Linked DNA regions of Homo sapiens. The protein of the gene in region 1 interacts with the protein of each later gene in a pairwise test. Each region holds a gene or a part of one and is shown on either strand. Other genes may lie near its edges.

The links. The genes of interacting proteins can lie anywhere in the genome.
Region 2: the proteins of LCP2 (region 1) and CD6 interact in binary tests that used the Homo sapiens proteins (3 or more experiments, as listed by UniProt).

The regions. Positions count from the first base shown.
Region 1 is NC_000005.10:170,295,712-170,299,597, forward strand, and holds the start of LCP2 (lymphocyte cytosolic protein 2), read right to left. Parts: upstream 2,067-3,886; 5' UTR 1,901-2,066; coding exon 1,823-1,900; intron 1-1,822. UniProt on the Homo sapiens protein: Adapter protein primarily involved in signaling pathways within T-cells, as well as other immune cells such as platelets, mast cells, and natural killer (NK) cells.
Region 2 is NC_000011.10:61,002,600-61,006,279, forward strand, and holds part of CD6 (T-cell differentiation antigen CD6 isoform 1 precursor), read left to right. Parts: intron 1-762; exon of another isoform or gene 763-2,346; intron 2,347-3,680.

The DNA of each region.
Region 1 (3,886 bases):
GGGGGCTGAGGTACTCAGAATCTGAAGGGTTTCTATCCAAGTCTGTGGAGGGACTAGAACTTCCAGGATCACAGATTTGCCTCAGTCTCCTAGTTTCTTCCCTCAGTCCATTTATGGCAGAAGAAGGAACCTGCCTGGGTGCTGTAGATTTGTCCTGGGGTCTGAGATCTCCAGGAAGAAAACTCTCCCTTCCCCCAGCTCAGGCAGTGAGGTCTTCCTGTACCATCCCTGACCCGTGGTCCATCTCCCTGTACTGATGGGAGTTTTAGGGATCAATTCTCTGTTGCTCAATTGGATTGTATAATTCTCCTGGTCACACCTGAATGTTAGGCCTATCTGTGCCTCTCAGCCCGTCCCAAGTCTTTCTCTTCATAATTCTCAATTCCTTTCTTTTTCCCTTATCAAGGTAACATGCCACTTTATTCCCTCTTGGCAAATTTTACCTTGTTGCCCTATCTTATTTGGTCTATATTTGAGCAAGATATTTAGAAACATCCTTCAAAAAACCAGTTGCGCAACAATATTTGCTGAAATCTAAGTTTATTATGACCTTGCAGAAGGAAAATAACAGAAATGAAAGCACAAAATATGGCAAAAAACAGGATCTGTGAACTGTACCCCTACCATACCACACCTAGTTCAACATGTTCTCATTTTCTTCTTCAGGTTGGGGGAGAACAGCTGTGACTATAAATGCCTCGGAAATGCATAGACCCCAGGTTTGGCTATACGTCCTAGGGAACCTCGTCTACCCTCTTGAATCTCAATTTCCCCAGGAAAAACACGAAGCTGAATTAGATGACTTCTACCATCTTAGCTTTACAATCTCATCTTTATGACAGTCTGGAATATCAACAGAATCCGATGCCAGCCTGCAGGGATGAGGGTGTTAGAAGCTTAACCGTCTCGCACAAGTCATCTTACCACATGGTCAGGGTAGAGGGACTATAACTAAGTCATGTGGCTTGAGATCTGCCCAAGCAGATGCGTTGTCCCCTTCTGCCAATGACCAAGCACAGGGATCCTTCAACCTTTCCTCTAAGTCCAGAAGATAAGACAGCAACGCTCTGGTCCCAGCACCGCCACAAGCCTCTTTTCCTCTAGGGGCCTCAGTTTTCATAGCTATAAATTGGGGCTCACATCAGTTTTCTGTCCTGCTTCACAAGACTCTCATAAGGCTCCAAGGAGACTGCCCCAGGCGGGAGCTTGAGGACCCCCCTTAGGGTCGTGAGCAGTGAAAGCCCAAATGCTGTGTCTGGCACTGCTCATCATAGTCCTCTATCCAGCCCTCCCACCCTGCCTATTCTTTCTCCTGCCTCCAGGACACCACGTCTCCCCTTTCTAGTAAGTAGCGTTGATCTCATTAGCAGTTACAACAGTTCTCTGCATCTCAGAGCATGGACTTTAAAACCAGATAGGTGTGGCTTGAGTCTTGCCTCTATCACATGTAGTCCCTAGGGCTTCGGACCATTTCACTTCCCTGAGCTGATTTTGCAGCTGAGTCAAGGGGATAACAATGCTGACCTCACAACATAGTAGGGAGCGCTAAATGGGACAGTGCCTGTGAGACACCGAATTCAAACCCTAGCACATAATAGGCACATACTCATTTGAGGGCTTCTGCTCCCATCCTTCTCTCCGGAACTCATGGTCAGGAAAACTCAGCGGTCTATATGGCGCTCACTCAACCAGTAAAGTTGCCATAGGGTTCCATTGCTATCTTATACACCTCCCACATTCTGCCCCAATTCCATCGTCAAGCCTCAGCTCAGCCCACCAAGGGCACTAGCATCATGACCATTCACACAAGAGCAAGGCTTACCTTCTTGAAATAGTCAGCAAGGCTGTCGGGGTCCCAGCCCAGGACCTCTGAGCGAAAGGGCACATTCCTCAGTGCCATGGCTGCTCTCCCGGGAAGAAGCTCACAAGCTGAGCATGGGCGCTTCACCCATGGGCAGAGAAGCTCAAATCCAGAGCTCGGAGGCGTTCTTGGCTCTTCCAACTCCCAGCTACCCTGTGGAACACCCCTGTTGGAGCCGATGTCTTTTCTGGCGTAGCCAGATCCCAGAAAGCAACGGCTTCCTCTGCGAACAAATATGGTCTCTTCTCAGAAAACGACTCAGCTAGTTTCCTTTACCACTTCCTCTGCTGGGCTCTAAATAAGTAAACAAGGAAGCCCAGCTCTGGAGGCTTGAGATGCAGAGAGAGCCACAGGGTTGGTAATTCCCCACTGGCTCCAGTCACCCCAACCCAGTAGGAGAGGCAATGAAGGGGTCTTAAACTCCAATGTGAGTCTGAGTAATTTTCCTTTAAACTCTGGGCACCCATATGTCTACACTGCATTCTTGCTCAGCTGGGGCTTTGCAGACCAAAATCTATCCTGACGGTTGACCTGAAATACAGACAATTTCCCACATCAGTGAACTGCTGGAGCATGTTTTTTTAATGCTTTCCAACCACTTTCCCCTCCCACCATCAAAGACTGGGATTCTTTCAGCTGCCTCTTTACAGTTGTCATGAGAGGGTCCTCAAGGAGTGAGTGAGTCAGGCACCCAGGGCTGAACAAGGTGCTACACTGTGCAGACAGGGCTCAGTTTCTGATATGACTATTTCTGTGCTATGCAACCTTAGGCAAGGAGTTAAAAGCTGGGAATCTCAGTTTCCAAATCTGTATAATAGGAAAACAGTGATTCTTCATATGCACATAAAACTTAGATGCATTCAACTAGACAAACCTAAAAAGAAAAATTAAAAAGAAAAAAAACTTAACAATTGCTATTGGTAGTGTCATATATTCCATTCACTATTGTTTCCACAATATATTTTATTCACTATTGATTCTGCCATATATTCTAGCCAAAGAGCACATTCCCTGGAGATAGGAGGTGAGAATTTGCTGTTTTCTTAGTTTCAGACATTGTTCATTTCTCATAACTGAACAACTTATTGGCAGAGGGTGAGTCCAGTGTATAAAAGCAACTATATTTGTGCAATAAGGCAACCTCTAAACACAAGTTACTACTTCATCTAATGCCACACACACACACACACACACACACACACACACACGAGTCATCTGTTCCAAGGCTGTTGCCTTTACTAAGTGATGCTATGTTGGTCCTTGAGGTGGTGCCTTCCTGAGGGTTTTCAAGCATAGCTTTGGCCATGCACAGTTTTCTTCTTATACACACTCTGAGGAGCCCCGCCGTCACGGTAATGCACCTGCCTCACAAGCTGGTGGGCAGCTTAAATGAAATACACATTTTGCTCCAGGCCCAGCACTAGCTCATCAATGTGAGCTGGTGTTAGCCTCACCTTAGAAGGTGCTGAGGGCATCAGTGAAGGTAGCCCAGGCCATTTGCTCCTTGCAGGGCCTCACACCTAAGAACTCTTTTCTTTTCTCTCTTTCTTTCTTTCTTTCTTTTTTTTTTTTTTTTTTTATTGAGACGGAGTTTCGCTCTTGTTGCCCGGGCTGGAGTGCAATGGTGCCATCTCGGCTCACTGCAACCTCCGCTGCCTCCCAGGTTCAAGCGATTCTCTTTCCTCAGCCTCCCGAGTAGCTGGGATTACAGGCATGCACCACCACGCCCAGCTAATTTTGTATTTTTAGTAAAGACGGGGTTTATCCCTGTTGGCCAGGCTGGCCTGGAACTCCCAACCTCAGGTGATCTGCCCGCCTAGGCCTTCCAAAGTGTTGGGATTACAGGCGTGAGCCATTGTGCCTGGGCCGCACCTAAGAGCTCTTTGTAGCTGATCATTCTGTATAAAGCACAGCTCTGCTGTACAAAAGCTCCATCACGGGTGAGAGGTCACCTGGTCTTTCAAATCACTAGCATAGCAGTGAACAATAAAAAGCCATTTGAAGAGAAAGAGAGAGAGAAATCAC
Region 2 (3,680 bases), on another chromosome or scaffold:
TTAATGATGTAAAAAAGCAAATTCACAGGAAAGGGTAAAAGTTTGCTCTTACTCTGTTTTGTGTTGCTATAACAAAGTACCACAGAGTGAGTAATTTAAAACAAAAAGAAATTTATTTCTTATAGTTCTGCAGGCTGGAAAGCCCAAGATCTAGGGGCCACATCTGATGAGGGCCTTCTCTCTGCATCATAACACAATGGAAGGCGTCACATGGCCAGAGAGTGCACGAGAGACAGAGCGAGGGACGGTGGAACTCTCACTTTTACGACAAAACCACTTCTGCAATAACCAACACACCCCTGTGATAACAGCATTAATCCGTTCATGAAGGCAGACTCCTCATGACCTAATCAACTCTTTTCTTTTCTTTTCTTTTCTTTTTTGAGACACAGTCTCGCTCTGTTGGCCAGGCTGGAGGGCAGTGGCGCAATCTCAGCTCACTGCAACCTCCACCTCCCAGGCTCAAGCAATTCTCCTGCCTCAGCCTCCGGAGTAGCTGGGATTACAGGCATGTGCCACCACACCCGACTAATTTTTGTATTTGTAGTAGAGACAGGGTTTCACCATGTTGGCCAGGCTGGTCTCGGACTCCTGACCTCAGGTAATCCACACGCCTTGGCCTCCCAAAGTGTTGGGCTTACAGGCGTGAGCCACCACGCCCAGCCCTAATCAATTCTTAAACATCCAACTTCTCAACACAGGTCATTGGGGGATTAAATTTCCAACACATGAACCTTGGAACACATTCAAACCATAGCAGGCTCCTTTTCAAATAAATTTATTGCAGCAAAAAAGTGAACCAATTTAAAGAAAAGTGTGAGGCACAGGGCCAGGCAAAAGTGGTAACAATGGGCCGGGTGTGGTGGCTCACGCCTGTAATCCCAACAATTTGGGAGGCTGAGGTGGGCAGATCACTTGAGCTCAGGAATTTGAGACCAGCCTGGGCAACATGGGAAAACCCCGTCTCTACAAAAAATATACAAAAATTAGCCAGCATCGTGGCAAGCGCCTGTAGTCCTAGCTACTCGGGAAACTGAGGCACGAGAATCGCTTGAACCCAGGAGGTGGAGGTTGCAGTGAGCCGAGATTGTGCCACTGCACTCCAGCCTGGGCGACAGAGCGAGACACTGTCTCAAAACAAAAAAGGTGATAATGATGTCTGAGAAACGCTGATCTTCCATTCGGCCCTCTGTGAAATGAGGCCTGGATGGAAAGACGGTTCCAGGTAATTTCTGCTTTTGTTCCTGTAGCACAGAAGTCAGAGAACAGAGAAGCCAGGTTCCCTTCTTGGGATAGGGGATGGGAGAATGCTTGACACAAAAATAAAGCCCTCGAGGTTATCCGCTTTCAACCAGCTGCCTTGGAGCTGGCAGCTGCTGCTCATTCATTCAGTCAATCAACAAACATTGCCTTGGACACTGTGGGGGACACAGGGCTGACCCAGCCATGGGCCCTGCCCTCTAGGGTTTTCTGATCTAGGAGAACACATTTTTGTCTTTATGCATGAGAAAGTGGTTTTCCAGACCCAGAGAGAGAGATGATACAGAGCAGAGCTAAAGCCCCCCTGCCCCACACACATCACATTCACACACACAGTCGTAATCACATATGCACACAGTCCCTCACACACACTCATATGCACACACCTCACAGTCATACACACTGCAGCCATCATTCAATCCCCCTCCCCCACCCCATGTAGTAACATTGAAAACTACGCAGGAGCACTGGGACGGTTGCTGTGGGAACCGGGATTCTGAAATCCTAACTTGTGGGCATCTGAATTCTTGCGCTGAACATTCTAATACATCAGCCACAGAGTTTATGCTCTGAATTTGGAGTCATTTCTCCTCCAGGGGCTCAGGCTGGGCAGCCAGCCAGGGAGTTAGCGAGGACGGCAATTAGAGGGCTGAAGACTTTCTGCCTGATGATGAAGAGGCCCACACGGTTTCCTGGAGAGGGCTGTCTGCCAGGGTGTGCACGCGCACATGCACAAGCTCAGGCTCAGGGGGTATGTCCGTGGAATCTGCTCAGGTGAAGCTCCAGGAATGTGTAGTGGTCATGTCCGAGTCTTCAGGCTCTGTATCGGTCAGGCCGGACTAGGCAAGGCTGTAGCAACAAGGACACCCCCAAATCTTCATGGTTTAACATGATAAGGGCTTACTCCTTACTCACACAAAATCCAAGCTGGGTCAACATCCCCTTCCCTCTTGCAGTTCCTCCGCAACCCAGGGCCTCTAATATCCTTCAACAGGGAAGACGTAAATGGAAATGGCTCACTGCCTCTTCCCTGCTTTGGCTCAAAAGCAGGCAGACGTCTTCTGCCTAGGCTTCAACCAGCCCAACCTAAGTGCAAGAGAAACCAGGAAATGCAGAGGAGTTCATAGGCAACCACAACAGTCCCTGCCCCAGAGCCTCCCTTTGTGCTTTGCAAGCCCAAACATCCCAGCCCAGAGGGGAGGCAAGTCCTTGGAGACAGTTTAAATCCGGGCTCTGCAGCTTGCTCACTGGGTGGCCTCAGGCCCACGCATCAGTTGGGTTCCCACCAGGAAACCTAGAATAGGAATTTAAAGGGGACTTATTTACAGAAGAACTATTTACAAAGGGTAATGCAGTAAGTAGAATCTAAGAGCAACTTCTGGCCAAAGGAGACACAACCAGGGAGTGGTCAGTGAGTCCGAGTAGGAGACAGTCAAGGAGAGGTCACCTTGAATAAGCAATGTCCTTCACATGAGGGACACAGCCTACCCGAGGGACCTCACAGGGGGGGCCAGAGGAATAAGTGTCACATCTTCGCTCTCCTCACTTCTGCCTAGCTCTGCTAAGGCTCCCCATTGGCTGAATCTGACAGAAGCCATAAGGCCCAGGAAGACAGGGGTTAATCCAAACAGATCAGCCTCCCAGGGCAGAATGGATAGTAGCTCTGGTGGAATAAATGGACCCTATCTGGCAGGGACAACTGATTTTTGCTTTTGGAGCCTCCTTTTCCTAATCTGTAAAATAAGAATGCTAACACCTGCCTCATTGCATTGTTGAAAGTAAATGGAATAGGCTGGATGTAGTGGCTCATGCCTGTAATCCCGGCACTTTGGGAGGCTGAGGCAGGCAGATCACCTGAGGTCAGGAGTTCGAGACCAGCCTGACCAACATGGAGAAACCCCGTCTCTACTAAAAATACAAAATTAGCCAGGCGTGGTGGCGCATGCCTGTAATCCCAGCTACTCAGGAGGCTGAGACAGGAGAATCGCTTGAATCTGGGAGGTGGAGGTTGCGGTGAGCCGAGATCAAGCCATTGCACTCCAGCCTGGGCAACAAGAGCGAAACTCTGTCTCAAAAAAAAAAAAAGAAAGAAAGAAAGAAAGTAAATGGAACAATATATGCAAATATGCAAATACCTGTCCTTCATGAATGCTAGTTTCTTAGTGTCTGAAGGCACTTTGCAATCCAGTGGTTCCCAGTCCAGGATGTGTCAATTATTCTAAAGTCTGATATGAAATTCTCAAACAAATTCTATAAACAAAATTTTCTTTTTCTAAATCACTCCCACTTTCGAGCTTTTTCTATATGTCAAGTATTTCATAGGCTGTCTCATTTCAGTCTCACAATATTTTCCTAAGAATCATAGCTGAAAAATTGGGACTGGCACAGAAAGATTAAGTCACCCATTCATGGTCACGAAG